Regions from separate parts of the Homo sapiens genome. Here region 2 is linked to region 1. The links come from fine-mapping of genetic effects on gene expression. A gene starts in region 1. The other region holds a variant in brackets. All regions are shown on one strand. Distances are from middle to middle. Region 1 holds the start of ROS1 (ROS proto-oncogene 1, receptor tyrosine kinase). Region 2 overlaps ROS1 (ROS proto-oncogene 1, receptor tyrosine kinase).

What was found. PIP is the estimated chance that this variant, and not a neighbour inherited with it, causes the effect. A credible set is the group of variants that fine-mapping cannot tell apart.
Region 2: its variant is the best candidate, but not a certain one, in a credible set for the expression of ROS1 in lung (TOPMed, PIP 0.71).

What each region holds. Positions count from the first base shown.
Region 1 is chr6:117,421,599-117,431,629 of GRCh38, reverse strand. It overlaps ROS1 (ROS proto-oncogene 1, receptor tyrosine kinase), which reads left to right and starts at 5,688. Exons shown (of 44, transcript NM_001378902.1): 1 at 5,688-6,096. The coding sequence starts at 5,974. It also overlaps the pseudogene RAP1BP3.
Region 2 is chr6:117,361,720-117,371,750 of GRCh38, reverse strand. ROS1 (ROS proto-oncogene 1, receptor tyrosine kinase) reads left to right here. Exons shown (of 44, transcript NM_001378902.1): 19 at 5,461-5,675; 20 at 6,010-6,170; 21 at 6,547-6,691; 22 at 8,886-9,148. Among named protein-coding and RNA genes, the nearest start is that of ROS1, 59 kb to the left of the region's middle. The variant C/T (reference allele first, on the strand shown) is at 5,458.

The DNA of each region.
Region 1 (10,031 bases):
AGCTCCTGAGCCAAGAATGACTAATTTATACTCAAGCATGATACAAATTTTTTAAAACCTAGTACCTCTCATGCTGTCACCAGGTCACTGCAGTCAGTGTTGCTCTGTGCTTTCTCTGAGTTGCTACTCCTGGTGCTATGGTGGTCTTGCCTCTGCTACTGCCACTCTGGCTGGTTTATATGCCTGAATAATGAGTTTTAAAATCATATTTGCACGTGTCATGGTAACTTCACATTAAAAAACATACAATGAATGCACAAAAAAAAAAGCAAGAAACTAAATCATATCACCAGAGAAAATAATCTTCACTAGAGGAAGACAAGAATGAAAGAAAGAAGACCAAAAAACAATATGAAAAGAACAAAATGACAGGTGTAAGTCCTTACTTGTCCATAATAACCTTAAATGTCAATGGGCTAAACTCTCCAATCAAAAGACATAGACTGGCTGAATGGATGAAAAAAAAAACAGTTGATCTTCTGCCTACAAGAAACACACTTCACCTATAAAGATACACAGAGATGGAAAATAAAGGATTGTAAAAAAATATTCCATGCCAAGAGCAGGAGTAGCTATACTTACATCAGACAAAATAGAATTCAAGACAAAAGCAATAAGAAGAGAAGTAGGTCACTATGTAATGATAAGGGGGGTTGGCTCAGCAAGAGGATACAACAATTTTAAATATATATTCACCCAACACTGGAGCACCCACATATATAAAAGAAATATTATTAGAGCTAAGGAGAGAGAGAGACTCTAACACAATAATAGCTGGAGACTTCCACACCTCACTTTCAGCATTGGACAGATCATTCAGACAGAAAATCAACAAAGAAACATCAGACTTAATCTGCAATATAGATCAAATGGATCTAATAGATATTTACAGAACATTTCATCCAAGGGCTGCAGAATACACTTTTTTTTTTTTTTTTTTTTTTTTTTGAGACAGAGTCTCAGCTCACTGCAAGCTCCGCCTCCCGGGTTCACACCATTCTCCTGCCTCAGCCTCCCGAGTAGCTGGGACTACAGTCACCCACCACCATGTCCAGCTAAGTTTTTGTATTTTTAGTAGAGACGGGGTTTCACCATGTTAGCCGGGATGGTCTCGATCTCCTGACCTCGTGATCCACCCACCTCAGGCTCCCAAAGTGCTGGGATTACAGGCATGAGCCACCACACCCAGCCAGAATACACATTATTTTCCTCAGCACATGAATCGTTCTTAAGGATAGGCCAGATGTTAGGTCACAAAACGAACCTTAAAACATTAAAAAAACTGAGATAATATCAAGCATCTTCTCTGACAAAAATAAAACTAGAAATTAATAACAAGAGAAATTTTGGAAACTATTCAAATACATAGAATTTAAACAATATGCTCCTGAACGATCAGTGAGCCAATGAAGAAATTAAGAAGGAAATTGAAAAATTTCTTGAAACAAATGATAATGAAAACACAATATACCAAAATCTATGGGATACAGCAAAAGCAATAGTAAGATAGAATTTTATAGCTCTAAGTATCTACATCAAAAAAAAAGGAAAAACTTCAAATGACAATCTAATGATGCATTTTAAAGAACTAGAAAAGCAAGAGCAAACCAAACCCAGAATTAGTAGAAGAAAAGAAATAATAAAGATCAGAGCAGGACAAAATGGAAAAAACAAAAAAAAAGAAACAAAGTTTTATTTTTTTGAAAAGTTAAACAAAATGGACAAACCTTTAGCCAGTTTAAGAAAAAAAGAAAGAAGATCAAAATAAATAAAATCAGAAATGAAAAAGGAGACATTACAACTGATATCTGCAGTATTCAAAGGATCATTAGTGGCTACTCTGAGCAACTATATGCTAATAAATGGAAACATATAGAAGCAATGGACAAGTTCCTAGATACATATAACCTGCCAAAATTGAACCAGGAAGAAATCCAAAACCTGAGCAGACCAATAACAAGTAATGAGATTGAAGCTGTAATAAAAGTCTCCCAGTAAAGAAAAGCCTGAGACCTAATAGCTTCACTGCTGAATTCTAGCAAATATTTAAAGAAAAACTAATACGAATCCTACTCAACTTATTCTGAAAAACAGAGAAGGAGGGAATACTTCCAAACTCATTCTATGAGGCCAGTACTTCCCTGATACTGAAACCAGATAAAGACACACCAAAAAAGAAAACTACAGGCCAATCTTTGATACATATTGATGCAAAAGTCCACAACTAAATACTAGCAAATTGAATTCAACAATACATTAGAAAGATCATTCATCATGACCAAGTGGGATTTATCCCTGGGATGGAAGGATGATTCAACATATACAAATCAATCAGTGTGCTACATCATATCAAAAGAATGAAGGATCAAAAGCATATGATCATTTTAATTGATGCTGAAAAAGCATTTGGTAAAATTCAACATCCTTTTATGATAAAAACCCTAAAAAAAAAAACTGGGGATAGAAGGAACATACCTGAACATAATAAAAGCCATATATAACCTACCCACAGCTAGTATTATACTGAATGGGGAAAAACTGAAAGCCTTTCCTCTAAGGTCTGGAACATGACAAAGATGCCCACTTCACCACTGTTATTCAACACAGTACTGGACATCCCAGCTAGAGCAATCAGACAAGAGAAAGATATTAAGGGCATCCAAATTGTAAAGGAGGAAGTCAAATCATCCTTGTTTGCAGATGACATATCTCACATGCTGAGAAACCTGGAGACTCCACAGGAAAACTAGCAGAACTGATAAACAAATTTAGTAATTCAGTAGTAGCATTTCTGTATGTCAAGAGTGAACAATCTGAAAAAGAAATCAAGAAAGTAATTCCATTTACAATAGCTACAAATAAAATTAAGTATCTAGGAATTAACCAAAGAAGTGAAAGATCTCTGTAATGAAAACTATAAAACACTGATTAAAGACATTGATTAGGACACACAAAAAATGGAAAAACATTCCATGTTCATTAATTGGAAAAGTCAATATTGTTAAAATGTCCATACTCCCCAAAGCAATCTACAGATTCAATGCAATCCCTATAAAAATACCAATGACATTCTTCACAGAAATAGAAAAAAACAATCCTAAGATTTATATTGAACCACAAGAGACCAAGAATAGCCAAAGCTATCCTAAGCAAAAGAACAAAACTGGAGGAATTACATTACCTGACTTCAAATTATACTACAGAGCTATAGTAACCAAAACAGCATGCTACTGGCATAAAAATAGACACACAGATCAGTGAAACAGACTAGGGAATCCAGAAAGAAATCCACACACCTACAGTAAACTCATTTTTGACAAAGATGCCAAGAACATACACTGGGGAAAAGACAGTCTCTTCAATAAATGGTGTGGGGAAAACTGGATATACATATATAAAGGAATAAAACTAGACCCCTATCTCTCTCCATATACAAAATTCAAATCAAAATGGACTAAAGACTTAAATCTAAGACCTCAAACCATGAAACTACTACAAAAAACATTGGGGAAATCTCCAGGACATTGGTTGGGGTAAAAATTTCTTGAGCAATACCCAACAAGCACAGGCAACCAAAGCAAAAATGGACAAACGAGATCACATCAAGTTAAAAATCTTCTTTACAGCAAAGGATACAATTAACAAAGTTAAGAGAAAACCCACAGAATGGGAGAAAATATTTGCAAACTACCCATCAGACAAGGGATTAATAACCAGAATAAATAAAAAGCTCAAACAACTCTATAGAAAAAAAATCAAATAATCCAATCAAAGGATGGGCAAAAGATTTGAATAGACATTTCTCAAAAGACATACGAATGACAAACAGGCATATGAAAAGGTGTTTAACATCATTAATCATCAGAAAAATGCAAATCAAAACTACAATGGGATATCATCTTACCCAGTTAAAATGGCTTATGTCCAAAAGACAGGCTATAACAAATGCTGGTGGCAATGTGGAGAAAAGGAAACCCTTGTATATTTTTGATGAGAATGTAAATCAATACAACCACTATGGAGAACAGTTTGGAAGTTCCTCAAAAAACTAAAAATTGAGCTACCATATGATCTAGAATTCTACTGCTGGGTATATGCCTAAAAGAAAGAAAATCAGTATATCAAAGAAATATCTGCATGTGAATGTTTATTGCAGCACTGTTTACAATAGCTAAGATTTGGAAGCAACCTAAGTATGCATCAACAGATGAATGGGTAAAGAAAATGTGGTACATATACACAATGGAGAACTATTCAGCCATATTCAGTCACGTCCAACAACATGGATGGAACTGGAGATTATTACGTTAAGTGAATTGAGCTAGGCACAGAAAGGCAAGCATTGCATGTTTTCACTTATTTATGGGATCTAGAAATCAAAACAATTGAATTCATGGACAAAGAGAGTATAAGGATGGTTGCCAGAGGCTGGGAAGGGTGGTGGTGGGTGGGGTGGGGGATGGGAGATGGGGACAGTTAATGGGTACAAAAAATGTAGAAAGAATAAATAAGACCTACTATTTGATAGCACAACAGGGTGACTACAGTCAATAATAACTGTACATATTAAAATGACTTAGAACATACTTGGATTGTTTGCAACTCAGTGGATAAATGCTTGAGGGGATGGACACCCCATTCTTCATGATGTGCTCATTTCACATGGCATGTCTGTTTCAAAACATCTCCTGTACCCCATAAATACATACACCTACTATGTACCCACAAAAATTAAAAAACAAACAAACAAAAATCCAATCAAAAGACGTTCAGCTCAAAACAAAACCTCATGCATGTGTTACTCATAGGGAGAACCTTATATCATTAAGAAAAGGTTAAGTTACATTTAGTATAATTTATTTAAGAAAACAAGGAGGTTGGCCTGTTGTACCGCGGTGGCTCACGCCTGTAATCCTAGCACTTTTGGAGGCCGAGGTGGGCGGATCACGAGGTCAAGAGATCGAGACCACTCTGGGCAACATGGTGAAACCCCATCTCTACTAAAAATACAAAAATTAGCTGGGCATGGTGGCGGGCGTCTGTAGTCTCAGCTACTCGGGAGGCTGAGGCAGGAGAATCGCTTGAACCTGGGAGGCGGAGGTTGCAGTGAGCTGGGATCATGCCACTGCACTGTAGCCTGGGCGACAGACAGAAATTCAGTCTCAAAGAAAGAGAGAGAGAGAGAGAGAGGAAGGAAGGCAGGCAGGAAGGAAGCTTGTACAATGTTTCCTTCTCAAAGCAGACACTTGAACATATCTTAGGTTTCTGGTAACTAGTTTCAGCTGTCTCGATAGACCTGATAAGTCAGTATTTTAGTTAATATGTAGTAAAGTTCTGAGAGTACTCTAACCAACTTCCTTGTTTTTAACTCTCTCCCAGGGTATTTGTCTATTAATTTCAGCTTTGTTTGCTCTTAAATTTAAAAATATGTATTTGGCTTCTGAGTTCTGTTTTCTCTCTCAGTTGCATTGCTTGATTTGGGTGCCTCTATTTTTCCAATAATTCTTTATTATAATAGTGCTACTGTTTGCTAAAGCATACGTGGTCAAAACCCAATTCCCTGCAGAGCTGAAAAGAGCTCAGAGAAGTAAGGTGGTGGACGACCCACTGAAATGTTCCAGTTTCAGACTGCATGTGTCACACCCTTGCTGAAATACAATTCGTTTTCTTTAATTTCCATGTGAAGTGCACTTCTAAGAACTAACCTTTAGTCACTGGGTGACTTTATGGGAGTAAAAGGAAGCTGTTATGAAATAGCTCTTATGGAACTGTTACAAGCTTTCAAGCATTCAAAGGTCTAAATGAAAAAGGCTAAGTATTATTTCAAAAGGCAAGTATATCCTAATATAGCAAAACAAACAAAGCAAAATCCATCAGCTACTCCTCCAATTGAAGTGATGAAGCCCAAATAATTCATATAGCAAAATGGAGAAAATTAGACCGGCCATCTAAAAATCTGCCATTGGTGAAGTGATGAAGAACATTTACTGTCTTATTCCGAAGCTTGTCAATTTTGCAACTCTTGGCTGCCTATGGATTTCTGTGGTGCAGTGTACAGTTTTAAATAGCTGCCTAAAGTCGTGTGTAACTAATCTGGTAAGTCTCACAATCTAATATTTGTCTTTGCAGGAACTAGAACATGTAGCATTCAGCTTGTTATAACTGATAGAATTGTTTTCTCTTTATGAGGAGTTTTCTTATGAGAAGTGGTGGCAACAAGGCAAGATAGATTATTTTTTCTTAAATAAGTTAGGAGCCCTTATAATTGCAGAAGATAAAGCAGGCTATTTTATTTCTTTAGGGTATGTGGTCATATATTTTTTGGGCTAGAGGACTGGGTAAAGGAGGTTTAAATGGAATCAATTTTGCCAATTTTGCACACTTAAAAACTTTCTATTTAAACTTATTTATTACAAAGTCATTAGTAGTTGTCTTGAAACCTGAAATCGGTTTGGCCACAGGATAATGCCTGCTAATTCCAGCTGTGTAGGGAGCTGGATGAAAAAGGAAGCAGATACAGTTGCCATGTAAAATAATATTTTAAAGCAATAATTATTTGTACATTTCTTTATTTCTGTTTGTGCATTTATTATTTTAGTTAGTGAGTTTTTTATATGGAAATTCATGCTTTCATTCTCATTTCTGGGTGTCATCCCTTCTCTAACTATTGTACCATCTCTTTTCAGTTGTAATTTAGTTGTGCTTAAAACAGTCACTGAATTAACTTTAAAAACCAAGTACTCTATAGACAGAGAAAATGCACTCTTCCTGTCTAAAGACAAATAAAATATCATGATAGTTTGCATATGACCCTATCTATAGCCATACTTTTAAACATAATGCAAGTACTAAATATAGTATTCATTATATTATTCTAAAGTATTGGAGATAGAATTATGTGGCAGATTAAAAAGAAACTTGCACTTATACACTTTTGATTTAAACTGTAGTTTAAAACACTACTTAGGTTTACCATGGTTAGTAGCATTTTTTTAAAAGTTTAGTATTTTATATAAATCTTTGCCGAAGACTTCATTGCCTTTAATATAGAATTGCATGCTTTAGTTTTTTATATTTGTAACCCAAACTTAAAAATGGAAGAATGGAACTACTAAATGTTTCAACTACTGAATGGAAAACTAAATGTTCTAAAAAAGATTTTAACTTTTTTCTAATTATAATAAGAGTATACATTTTAAATAAAATATTTATAACATAGAGAACTACAGAAGAATAAAAAACTTCTAATTCTAGCCCTAGTAATCTTTTGATTGAATTTTCTTTTAGTATTTTTCCTCATATATATATATGTATACATATATATCTATAATTTACACCCAGCTATGCAACCAGCTTTTTCATTACATTGTATTGTGAGTTTTCCCCTAGACCCTGAGATTTTTTTAGAAACAGAATCTTTATTATCTTTAGAGTATTCCATTATATGAATGTACCACCATAATTTATTTGTTAATTTCCCTGCTACTGAAACTGATTTTAGTTGTTTCCAATATTGCAGTCTCCATTTTATTTTACTGTCGTTTTATTTATTCTTATCTTTTTGTGTGGGCTCCTTGCTTCCAGGGTTTGGCAGTAGGAATAGACAGTTTGTTCCTTTGTTGAGTTGCCTTCCGTTCACCACCTACAGAGAATGGCACAGCTGATGTGTGGCAACAGCAAGAGAGACACGGTCTGCCAATTTGACCAGTGAAAGTACTACATGTTCCCACATAGGGCCTGGAGGGACAAAAGTGAAGTGAATGTACAATTGAATGTAACCATGGTTCACAGGAGAGGATATACAAAGTGCTCAAGTTTATTATATTTTCTGCATCATTTTTAAAAACATGGACATTTACTCTGAAGGTCATCTATAATTTTATTGGGTGATTCTTGATATTGAGAAATGTTTTCTTAAAAAAAAAAAGTCACCACAAGAATGTCTTGTCCAAAAATAAAATGTTAGAATTGTGGGCCAAATTGCACGAAGCAGAGTTCTATGCTTGAGCATTGGTATTTTACATTACTTTTATCTTACGTTAACAGAGATCTGCATGTACTAGTTGAAAGTATTAACTGAAAAGTTTTTTTGAATTCTAGAAGCCATGTGCTGCAGAAAACAACAAACAATTAATGCTCTTCAGAACTCTAGTATTGTGAGATCCTTTATGATAAAGAAAAAAGAATTCACGGTTGAATCATTTGTGGAAGTGTATTTTGCTATGCCCTCTTTTTGTAGATTCACAGGGCACAATAACATGTTAAAAGCTTTGTTTAATCATAATTTTCCCATCTTTAGCAACAAAACCCTTTTTTAATGTTTCCATAAGTTATTGGGGGAACAGGTGCTATTTGGTTACATGAGTAAATTCTTTAGTGGTGATCTGTGAGATTTTGGTGCACCCATCAGCCATGTATACACTACACCATATTTGTAGTCTTTTATCCCTCACCCTGCTCCCACTCTTTCCCCTAAGTCCCCAAAGCCCATTGTATCATTTTTATGCCTTTGCATTCTCATAGTTTTGCTCCCACTTATCAGTGAGAACATACGATGTTTGGTTTTCCATTCCTGAATTACATCACAAACCCCCTTTTTTTTTTGAATTAACAAATCACAACAACTGAGGAACTAATATTGAGAAGGGCTCAGGAGTATCAATTCCATTCAATAAATTTCATTCAATATCAATTTATTGAATGGATTCCATTCAATAAATTTTCCTAGGTATCTATGTATATTCAGCTCTGTGGTGGATGCAATTCGGAATACAAAAGAAGTGAATTATGTAATCAATGCCCTAAAGTAAGTTATCAAATACTGAGATATCAAGGTTTCTATCACTAGACAGTTAAAGGCTGTTACAAACATGATGTGCTTTTATAATATTAGAGGGTGATGACAATACATTTATTTTTGATTTGTATCTTAAGTTCCAAAGAAATAAACTGAAAATCAACTGAAAGACTATTAGAAATAATAGGATTTGGAAGATTTTTAAAAAATTAATGTACAGACATGAAAAATTGTCTTGTATATCAATATATAACATTAAAACAAAATAATATAATAAGATCATAATTCAGAAATTTTATAAAATATTTACAAATTAGCATAGTTTTTATTGCTACAGGAATAAACCTGTGAGTAAAACAGAATACAATCAAGAAATAAAACCATGTACATAAAGAATGTGAAATATGATAAAGATGACAATTCAAACCAATGAGTTGCTATCCATGTAGCATAAAAAATTCCTACATAACTGCCAGATTCAAATAAATTTCAGGATATATTTTGTAAAAAGGTATGACTTTTGGTTAAGTGCGATGGCTCATGCCTGTAATTCCAGCACTATGGGAGGCTGAGGCGGACAGTTCCCTTCAGCCCAGGAGTTTGAGACCAGCCTGGGCAACATGGTGAGACTCCTGTCTCTACAACAAATACAAAAATTAGCTAGGCGTGGTGGCATGCACCTGTAGTCCCAGCTACTTAGGAGGCTGAGGTGGGAGGATTGATTGAGCAGGGAGGTCGAGGATGCTGTCAGCTGTGATTACACCACTGTGCTCCAGCCTGGGTGACTCTGTTTCTAAGAAACAAAAACAGAAAGGTTTACTTAAATGCAAACAGACAAATAAACAAAACAAAGCAAGTGTTTACTTCATAAAAATATTAGAAGAAATTGGGGTGACTGTTTCTGTAATCTTGAAGTAGAAATGCCTTAAGAAGCCTAATTAAAAAATTTAGACTCCCTAAAAAGAAATTATCAATAAATTTGACTACTTAGAAACTTAAACTGTTATGACAACAGTATACAATAACTGCAAAGCCAAAAAGTGGAAAAAAAGTATTACACATGATAAATAATGTTTTTAAAGAAAAAATCCCTGATACACATAAAAGCATGTAAGATGAATTTAGAATATAAACAGCCACTTCAAAAAAGAAGTATAAGTGTCCATCAACTGATGAGTGGATAAAAAAATGTGATATATATACACCATGGAATACTACTCAGCCATAAAAAGGA
Region 2 (10,031 bases), 60 kb after region 1:
GGCCAGTCTCACTCCCACCATGTCTCCCATGCAGCCAGTGAGTAGGACTAAGAACTTGCCGCAGGTTACAAGCCTCCCTGCTGAAAAAGCAAGTAGGGCTTTCAGGTTTCATACCTCCCACCTGTCATGGTTTCTGTGTTCATATCTGCACTCCCTATTTGCCCCCTTTCCCAGGTTCTGTCCAGGAAACTGTATTCGGTTTAAATTTTTACAAAGTTCAGCTGGAACTTTTCTTCTTCCTATGGTCTTTCTCCAGTTACACTGGCAGCCCTCCCCAAGGATCTCTGCAAGACAAAGTCAGGAATGGTTTCCCTGGGGACTGCAAGTGCCCACAGGGCTCGTCCTGCTGCTTCCTCTACCCCTATATTTTGCTTGGCTGTAAATTTGCCTCAGCTGCATGTGAGGTCAAATCCTTCTCCCATGATCTGGACCTTCAGGTTTTCCACAGAGGATGTGTGTTCGGGGGTGGACACTCCCCATATCACACTTTGGGCACTCAGTTTTTTGGCTATCTCACAAAGCCTACAGCAGCAAGCCTCTTCCTTCAAAGCGTCTGTGGATTCTCTCGGCTTTCCTGGTATGTTCCTGTGGTAGTTCTTGGAGCAAAAGTTCATGATGTGAGTCTCCACATGCCGCTCTGTCCATCTGAATGGGAGCTGCAAGTTAGTCCTTGCCTCCTATTCACTATTTTGGGAACTGATCTGAGTCTTTACATTTAAAGTGCCTTTCTTGTAAACAACATACAGGATGTTGCTTTTTTACACAATCTAACAACTTCTGCATTTTAATTACGGCATTTGGTTCATTTACACTTAATATAATTATCAATATGTTTGGATTTAAGTCTACTGTCTTGACATGTGACTTCCATTTGTGTCTCAGCTCCTTGTTCCTCTGTTTCTACTTCTTTGCCATTTTTGTGGGTGAATAAAATAATTTTTAGTATTCCATTTTATCTCCTCTAATGACATTTTAAGTATGTCTATTTATTTTTTTAGGTTGCATTAGAAATTAAAATATGCATTTTTTTACATGATACATCTTCAACTTATCAAGTCAATATCCAAATATATCCTTCATAAATGATTTAAAACTTTATATATGTTTAATTTTTACCATCCTACTCTTAGTGTTCTTCGTGTCATATGTTTTACTTCTACTTGTTTAAATATCCAATAATTTAAAAATATTTAACTAATAGTTTTTAAGGGAGAAGTTACACATCTAAAATTAAAATATAGGTTATAAAGTCATTAGAACCCAAAATTTAGAGGGAGAATTTAGAGATCATTTTATTTCATAGATGAGGACACTGAGGTCCAGAGATATTCACACATTTTCCTAATATCACATTGTTAATCAGAGGAATGGTCAGGAAGTGATTAAAGTAAAGCAAAATATCATATACTCTAAAGGTAAAGATTTCTGGTATTAGGTTCTTGGGTCCCCAAAGGGTTCATAGAAGGCTTTAGGATGTGTCAGTGCTCTGCAATTGAGGATTCATATCTTTCATCAAAATTCCAAAAAAGTCTCCTAAAGTTCAATAACTATTTTATGAAGACAATGCTGACAATATTTTTAGAATAAAAATTCCTTTTTTTGGTAAGTAGAAAAACTCCAAGTCATGGAGACCCTGAAAAAGGAGTGTATGTATGTGTATATTTATCTATCTATAGATATAGATTTATACACATACATCCATATGCATTCATATGTATATATCCATATATATCCACATACATTCATATCCATATACACATCCGTATGTACATATATGTATATACATATGTGTATATGCATGTACATATACATATATATGGATGTGTATATATATGTGTATGCACGTGGATGCATGTAGATAGATATTTATGTATATATCCATATATATACACACACACACATAATGCCTATAAGCACATAAACACAACAAATCTGATTGATCAATTACTTCATATCAAGTATGGCAGACAGCTCTGGCTAGTTTCCTACCTGTGAATCAGAGAAAACTGATTATTCCTTTCCTTAGGAACTTAAGGTACTGACAATCTGATTGCCAAAACAAGCTGTCTAAAGTGAGACATAGACAATGTTCAAAGCAACAGTGTCCTGAAGGATCATAGTCCATTCTCTGCATTCTCTGTGTCTGTATATGCCAGAGAGCTGGTTTCTTTTTTTTTTTGAGATGGAGTCTCGCTCTGTCGCCCAGGCTGGTGCAGTGGCGCGATCTCGGCTCACTGCAAGCTCCGCCTCCCGGGTTCATGCCATTCTCCTGCCTCAGCCTCCTGAGTAGCTGGGACTACAGGCGCCCGCCAACACGCCCGGCTAATTTTTTGTATTTTTTAGTAGAGACGGTGTTTCACCATGTTAGCCAGGGAGAGCTGGTTTCTTTAAGAGTCTAGCTCCTCGAGCATCCACAGACTCAATATAAAGTAGAGGAAGGAAGTTCCTTCTTAAAAAATGTATTTCCTCATTTCAAGTTTAGTAATGTTTTCTTGTATGTATGTACAGTGGAGCATAGCAGCTCCCAGTGAGATAACAAAGGGCAGGTACTTTTGCCTTCCAAGTAAGTCTTGCCTTTTAAACCTATCAGGAAAAAAAGAAGTTTTATATATAGAGATTGGGATTCCAGAGTCATCTTATAAGGAGAAAGTATTTTCTAACATATAATCAAAATTCCTTCCCTTTAGTTTAGATCAGCTTTGTCCAATACAAATATAATGCAAGTCACATATGTAATTATAAATATTCTAGTTGGCTCATTAAAAAAAGTAAAAACAAGTAAACGTAACTTTAATAGTATATTTTAATATTTTGATAACATATCAAAATGTCACTTCAACATGCAATCTGAATAAAAATTATAAAGTTATTTTATATTCTTTTTTTCACATTAATTCTTGGACGTTCTGTTTGTATTTTACATTTATAGCATAGCTTAATTTGCAAACTAAGTTTTCATAGAAAATATTTGATCTGTATTTAGATTTCATAAAATTTACAGGCAAAATAGTTGATTTACATACTTGTTCTAAAATACTCAAAAATATTTTAATATATTATACGTGATTCATAATATATGAATCAAATATTAGTTTTAAAATTTACCACAAGTTAATTAAAACTAAATAACATTAAACTTTTGGTTCCTCGGTCATACTAACCACATTTCAAGGGCTCCGTAGTCACATGTAGCTAGTTGCTGCTGCACTGAGCAGTACGGCTCTAGTCTGTAGTAGAGATGAGATAAACTGATTGCTGTCACTCATCATATTCCGAACTTGAGAATTGTAATTGAATTGCCCCTCAAACTACTCTTCCCTCTCCTATGTACATCCATTCCCTTTAGTTTATACAAGAGTAAACCTATTTGAGGTACTGTGAAATTCTCAAAACAAAACTTTATTTATATTTTTCTAAAGAGAGAAAAGTGAATGCTTTAAAATGATTTATAGAAATCACTAAAAAAAAAATCAAACTATCACTCCAAAATGCTGAGGATAACTGAGATAGTTCTTTTTTTGAGTACTAAACAACTGTTACAACTTCAGAAACAACCAAGCAGATTTTTCAAGCAAAAATAATTGCAAAATTTCCTTCCATTGAGGGGAAAAAAACCTCTAAACACAATTTAAAGTTTTTTACTTGAATTTCCTAGTCTGAAAAGGAGCACTTTGATCAAACTATAGAAACTGATACACATTGAAATAACATACAGTTGTGAGTAGTATAAAGTGAAGGACCCAGCAGGCTAGGATAATAAATGGCAGGTAAATCAGATGACTAACCAAGAGTAGGAGGAAGGCGTGGTTCAATGGGGAGAAAAAATTCAACAGACCATGCCTTCGGGATTGATTTTCCCTGTTTATCTTGTTATGCCTGGCTGTTCATTTTGGGGTGGTGGGGTCATGGAATTGATTTTTTTAAATCAATCTTTTTATTTCTTGAGAAAACTATGATGAAATGAGATCAGCTTCACCCAGATGCAGATTTATTAGTGTTATACCCACATTTAATAGATGGTTCAATGAGAGGTTAAATTATTTGCCTGAAGTCAAACATTTAATAATTGGCTGAGCTGGGGTTCCATGCAGTTCTATCTGTTTCTGAAGAATCCCCTACATTGCAAATTCATTAATTCCCAGTGGGGCCTAGTCTCATTCAGAAATGAGAATAGTCATGTGGGCATGCAGGCCATGCCTTCTTGGCATCACGTGAACTGGGTTAGATGTGAGGTGGTTGCTTTAAGAACAAGGAATCTGAGTGAGGGTTGTTGGATAGACTAGAAGGGTGCCCACACAGGCCAGTGTCAGAGCAGTGATGAACTCTGCTCATAACAGAGTTATTCTGTGTGCCTAGGTACTGGAGTCCTCATGGCTACCACATTTAAGAGCTGTCATTCCTGTCAATTCTGGATAAATGCTTGGAAATTCTTGCTCTTTGGGTGTGTCTTTTTTTCAAATCCCTCAATGCAATAGGCTTTCCTTTTTAAAGGAACATGTACCTGAATCCTAACTTGCTGTCTCCATCATGATTTATTGCATTGGCTGGTCCCAAAGCCCTTCTGCTTCACATCCGTAGGCTAACTTCACATCTATAGGCTAATTTATTGCATTGATTGGTCCCAAAGCCCTTCTGCTTCACCTCTACATATGGCAAATTTATACTTCAGGCATTGGTTTTTACGGGTTTCATTTCTGGATGATTACCTTATTTCCAGGTCCTGTAAGAACCTTGCCTCATGTCTTTCTTATGCTAATGCAAGAGTTGTAGGAGCACATAGAATAAACCAAAGATGTAATCTCTGAACTAATGAAGTAATGAGAATCCAGGTTGTGCCTTTGTTGTAGAGTATTACCAAAATCACAAGCATTTTTTAAAAAGCTGCAACCTATCTAAACACCCTTGATATTGCAATATCACATTAATAAGAAAAGCCCCCAGAGAGCACAGTGCTCATGCCTGTGATCCCAGCACTTTGGGAAGCCGAGGCAGTCAGATCACTTGAGGTCAGAAGTTCAAGACCAGCCTGGCCAACATGTGAAACCCTGACTCAACTAAAAATACAAAAAATTAGCCAGGCTTAGTGGTGTGTGCATATAATCCCAGCTACTTGGGAGGGTGAAACAGGAGAGTATCTTGAAGCTGGAAGGCAGAGGTTGCAGCGAACTGTGATCATGCCACTGCACTCCAGCTTGGGCAACAGAGTGAGACTCCATCTCAAAGAAACAAGGAAAGCCCCCAGAAAATTTACTTTAGGTCTACTACTTTTAAAAATGTAAAATAAAAACCCAACTTAATATGAAACAAAAAAAGACAATAATCGTTAGAAAGTATTTTCTTTATTTTAATGTACACAAATGCGTACAGATACTCACAAACATATATTCTCATGACTACTTGCATGGACCAGCCCTTCCACCACTCCAGAAACACACACTAATTGGTGTTATGTTTTAG[C/T]AGCACTGGGGATACCACCATCACAGAATTTGCAGCCTGGAGTACTTCTGAAATTTCCCAGAATGCACTGATGTACTATAGTGGTCGGCTGTTCTGGATCAATGGCTTTAGGATTATCACAACTCAAGAAATAGGTCAGAAAACCAGTGTCTCTGTTTTGGAACCAGCCAGATTTAATCAGTTCACAATTATTCAGACATCCCTTAAGCCCCTGCCAGGTACAGTATTTCATTCCTGCTTACCCTACTCCACTATACCTTCAGTTAAATAAATGTTTAGGTTGGGATATTTTTTTTTCTTAAGAATTAAGTTTTAAGAGGAGTAAGGTTTCAGTAATTTCAATTGGTTTGCTTGCAGTGAGTTTAATCTTAACCCAAATTTACAGCCTGAAAAAGTCAGAAAAAGATGATTTTTTTCAGGATATGTTAAAGAAAAGAAAAATTTTGTTTCAGTTCTAATTATTAGTAATTGCTATTGATTTTCTATGATTTCTATATTGGTCAATAATCCCCATTTTTTTCTCCTATTTCTTTTTTTTGTTTCATCCTGTAGGGAACTTTTCCTTTACCCCTAAGGTTATTCCAGATTCTGTTCAAGAGTCTTCATTTAGGATTGAAGGAAATGCTTCAAGTTTTCAAATCCTGTGGAATGGTCCCCCTGCGGTAGACTGGGGTGTAGTTTTCTACAGTGTAGAATTTAGTGCTCATTCTAAGGTATGGTGTTGGTTCTAGTAACTTTCATTTCCCAAACAGACTGTACCATCTGTGTCAGCCTTGCCCACACTGACCTGTATCATCTTGACTTAGCCAAGCCCATCTTCTTTGTCATTCCCATAGCATTTGGTCATTAAGATTATTCCCCAGAAGACTTGTTTGCAGCCAGTCTCTGACTGCTTGGTGCTAACTGCTGTGCTGGATACACTTTAACTGGTCTGTGTGGCACAACACAGAACTTGCCAAAATTAGCACTTCCAAAATTGCAAATTTTGATTTTACATGTGAACTAAAGTTTGGAGATTTTAGATAATAAGGAATGAAAGATTTTATAATTCTCTCCCTGAGAAAATAATGTTTTCTGTTTATATTTTAGTTCTTGGCTAGTGAACAACACTCTTTACCTGTATTTACTGTGGAAGGACTGGAACCTTATGCCTTATTTAATCTTTCTGTCACTCCTTATACCTACTGGGGAAAGGGCCCCAAAACATCTCTGTCACTTCGAGCACCTGAAACAGGTACAGGGGTTAAAATCTGTCTTTTTTCTTAAAAAAGCAGAATCTCACTTTTCATGATCTGGAATGGATAGTTGATATTTAAAAATAACTTTCAGTTTTATAGATGTGTTTAGATTCAATACCCTTTCAATGACTTTTTGGAGATTAGAATAGCGTCATTAACATAAATATGCATAATTTATTCCAAAAGAATATTTCAAAGATTTCTTAACAGCCATTTCATTTGATTGTAGTGATGTAGAAGATGCAGATGCATATTTCAGGTAATTTGCAAAATCCTTTATAAGGAAAATGGGCATTTAAGGGCAGAGACAGTTTTCTTGGAAGGCAGACTGTTCTCATAGATGGGAACTCAGAATCTTCTGTAGGTGAATAACTGATATCTAAATTTAATGTTTTGGGGAAAAGATATTTTAAAAAAGATACTAGCCATATCATTACATGTGTGTATCACCTTAAAGTGTACAAAACACATTTTTATGTATCACTCCTTTATTAACTATTTACTACATACCTATCATGTGTCAGAAACATCATTTCATTTGATCCTCACAGAGCTCTGAGGTGGGTAGGAAAGTCTTATTATCTTGATTATGCAAGAAAGAAAATGAAAGCCTAGTAGTTGCCCAAATAAAATAGTTACTAAGTGGCTGGGCTGGGACTTAATCTGGACTTTTCACTACAGTTTCATCAAATCTCCATTCAGTCACTTTTACAAATGTTGGTAAATGATAGTAATTTATGTAAAGCTAATACAGGATTTGGCAGGTGGTAAGAGCTTAATAAATATAGATATCCATTCTCCATTGCATTTTTTACTATTAAGATTATTTCAACAATATCCATCTACGAATTACACAACAGGAACATAGTGGGGCCTGGGCAGGTTCCGGAGCAGTTAGCATTGGATCCAGGAATGTTCTGCTTGAGATTTCCTTGGGATATCAGCTTGGTTGAATTGTCCTGTGGAAATGGACTTGACTGCATCCATCAGGGGATCCAGTGGGAGCAAGAGTCAACAGCACTCTGCTGGATATTGGAGAATAAGAAAGGATGACAAGATTTGGCCTTTGCCTTCAGGAAATTTACAATATAGCCAGGAAATTATCCAAATTGACCAATATTTATTAACCACTTACTGTATGCCAGTTCTGTACTAGATATGGGAAGATTTAACAAGGAATAAGAAGAGATGCTTTCTCTGATGGAGTTCATAAAACAGGAGGGAGATAAACACATGCACAGCAAATGATAATAGATACTAGAGAGTTATACCTGAGCAGCAGTGGCATAGAGTGAGTAGACAAGCCTATGAAACCTTCACCTATATCAAGCTGCCTCAGGCATTTTTAAGAGAGAAGGTGCCTTTGGGAAATGGAAACTTTAGTGCACTCTGAAAGATGGAGCAAGAAGAGGTATCCCATGTGAGAAGAGAAGCCTAATGTAAGAAGGCCTGGAGATTGAATAATAGTATGAGTGTTAAACATTAAATAGCAATGTGATTGGAATGAGGGAGGGAATGAAGACCTTGTGGAGGAGTCCTAAGAGAGGAGAGGGCCATCCAGAGAGAATGACTTAGAAATCAGGCAGAGACATTTCTCTTGATTAAAGGACTGAGAGATACTGAATTGCTTGGTTTGGCTCTAGAATAAATGAATACTCCCAAACCTTACTCTTGGGGTACGATCAGCCTCCCCTAAACTTTCTGCTTTCTAGGAACTTCAGAGTGACAGGGCCTAGGTCTCTGATTTATGCTGTGTTTTACAACCTGAACTGGCTGAAGGCTGGTGGGACTTACTGCCATCCATCCTGATGATGACATTTTCACCTTCACTGAAATCACTCTGTCAGGATAAAAGTGAATGTTGCATTTTACGGGGAGAACCAGACAGCTTCCATCTACACAAGGCACAGACAAGAAAGGTGTGCTTAAGTGGTAGTAGGAAGGATTTGAGTTGAACATAAGGAAGTCTTGCCTGTCAGTCAGATGTGCTGAAATTATCAGGATGGGTTCCTGAAGAAATCTATGGAATATTCTCTCCTGAAGATCTTTAAGAATGTAATAAATATACTGCAACTGCCTGGAATGAGAAATATTGTTAAGTTGTTTACAATCTTATTATAAGTGGTAAAAGTCTTATATTCTTTATATTCTTATATTCTTTTCTGCTCTACCTGTGCCTCTACTTTTCAGTTCCATCAGCACCAGAGAACCCCAGAATATTTATATTACCAAGTGGAAAATGCTGCAACAAGAATGAAGTTGTGGTGGAATTTAGGTGGAACAAACCTAAGCATGAAAATGGGGTGTTAACAAAATTTGAAATTTTCTACAATATATCCAATCAAAGTATTACAAACAAAACATGTGAAGACTGGATTGCTGTCAATGTCACTCCCTCAGTGATGTCTTTTCAACTTGAAGGCATGAGTCCCAGATGCTTTATTGCCTTCCAGGTATGAGAGAGAAAACAGAAGATATGAGAGTCTTAATAGCGGCATTGTGGGGAGAGGGAAAGACTATGTTTCTGGGATATGTTACAGTGTAAATGGCACACATACCTAGATTTTGATTGGCCACTATAGTTTTTTAAAATTATGTGAGAAAATTAATGGAGGTAATTCAGATAAGAGTGACTAAAGTAAACTGTTAAAGAAATGGAAAGTGGACCTTTTGAGGATTAATATGCAGGAATTCGTTTTTATTCCATTAAAGACGACTGCAGTTAAAAAAAAAAGTTTAAACAGAAGAATAATTAAAGGACTAGGTTAAGAATTCTGCCACCCTGTCAATAATTTAGGTATACTGTGATCAAAGAGGTCAAGTGGGCAGCAAAAGTAGAGAGGCAAGAGGGGATTGCTTGGGTGAAGGACACTTTCACAACTTTCTCACATTCAGGGAACTTTGCAAATTCAGAGTAAGTCATTCTTTTTCTTTTTGCTTTTCTTTTGAAGCTGTATCATGATTTTAATTTCTGTATGTTACACATTACTGATTTGTTTTACATTTTTTATTGATATATATTATAGTTGTACATACATTTGGGGTACATGTGTTATTTTGATAAACCATTATTTTTCAATAAAATCACTATAGGCCTTGCACCACTGTAGGTATTTTTGTATTCATTATCTCATTTGATCCTCATACTATAAAGAAAAAGTTAAGTCGTTGAGAGTATCAGTCAATTACCAAAGCTGCGTGGCTGGAAAGCACTGTGCTGTAATGCTTTCCACCATTTCTTTTTGGGGAAAATAACATCTTGGGGAGTGTTTTGGAGATTTGAGTTGTGTAGGGATTTGTTTTTCTTTTCATAAAATTCTAATTTAATAATTATTT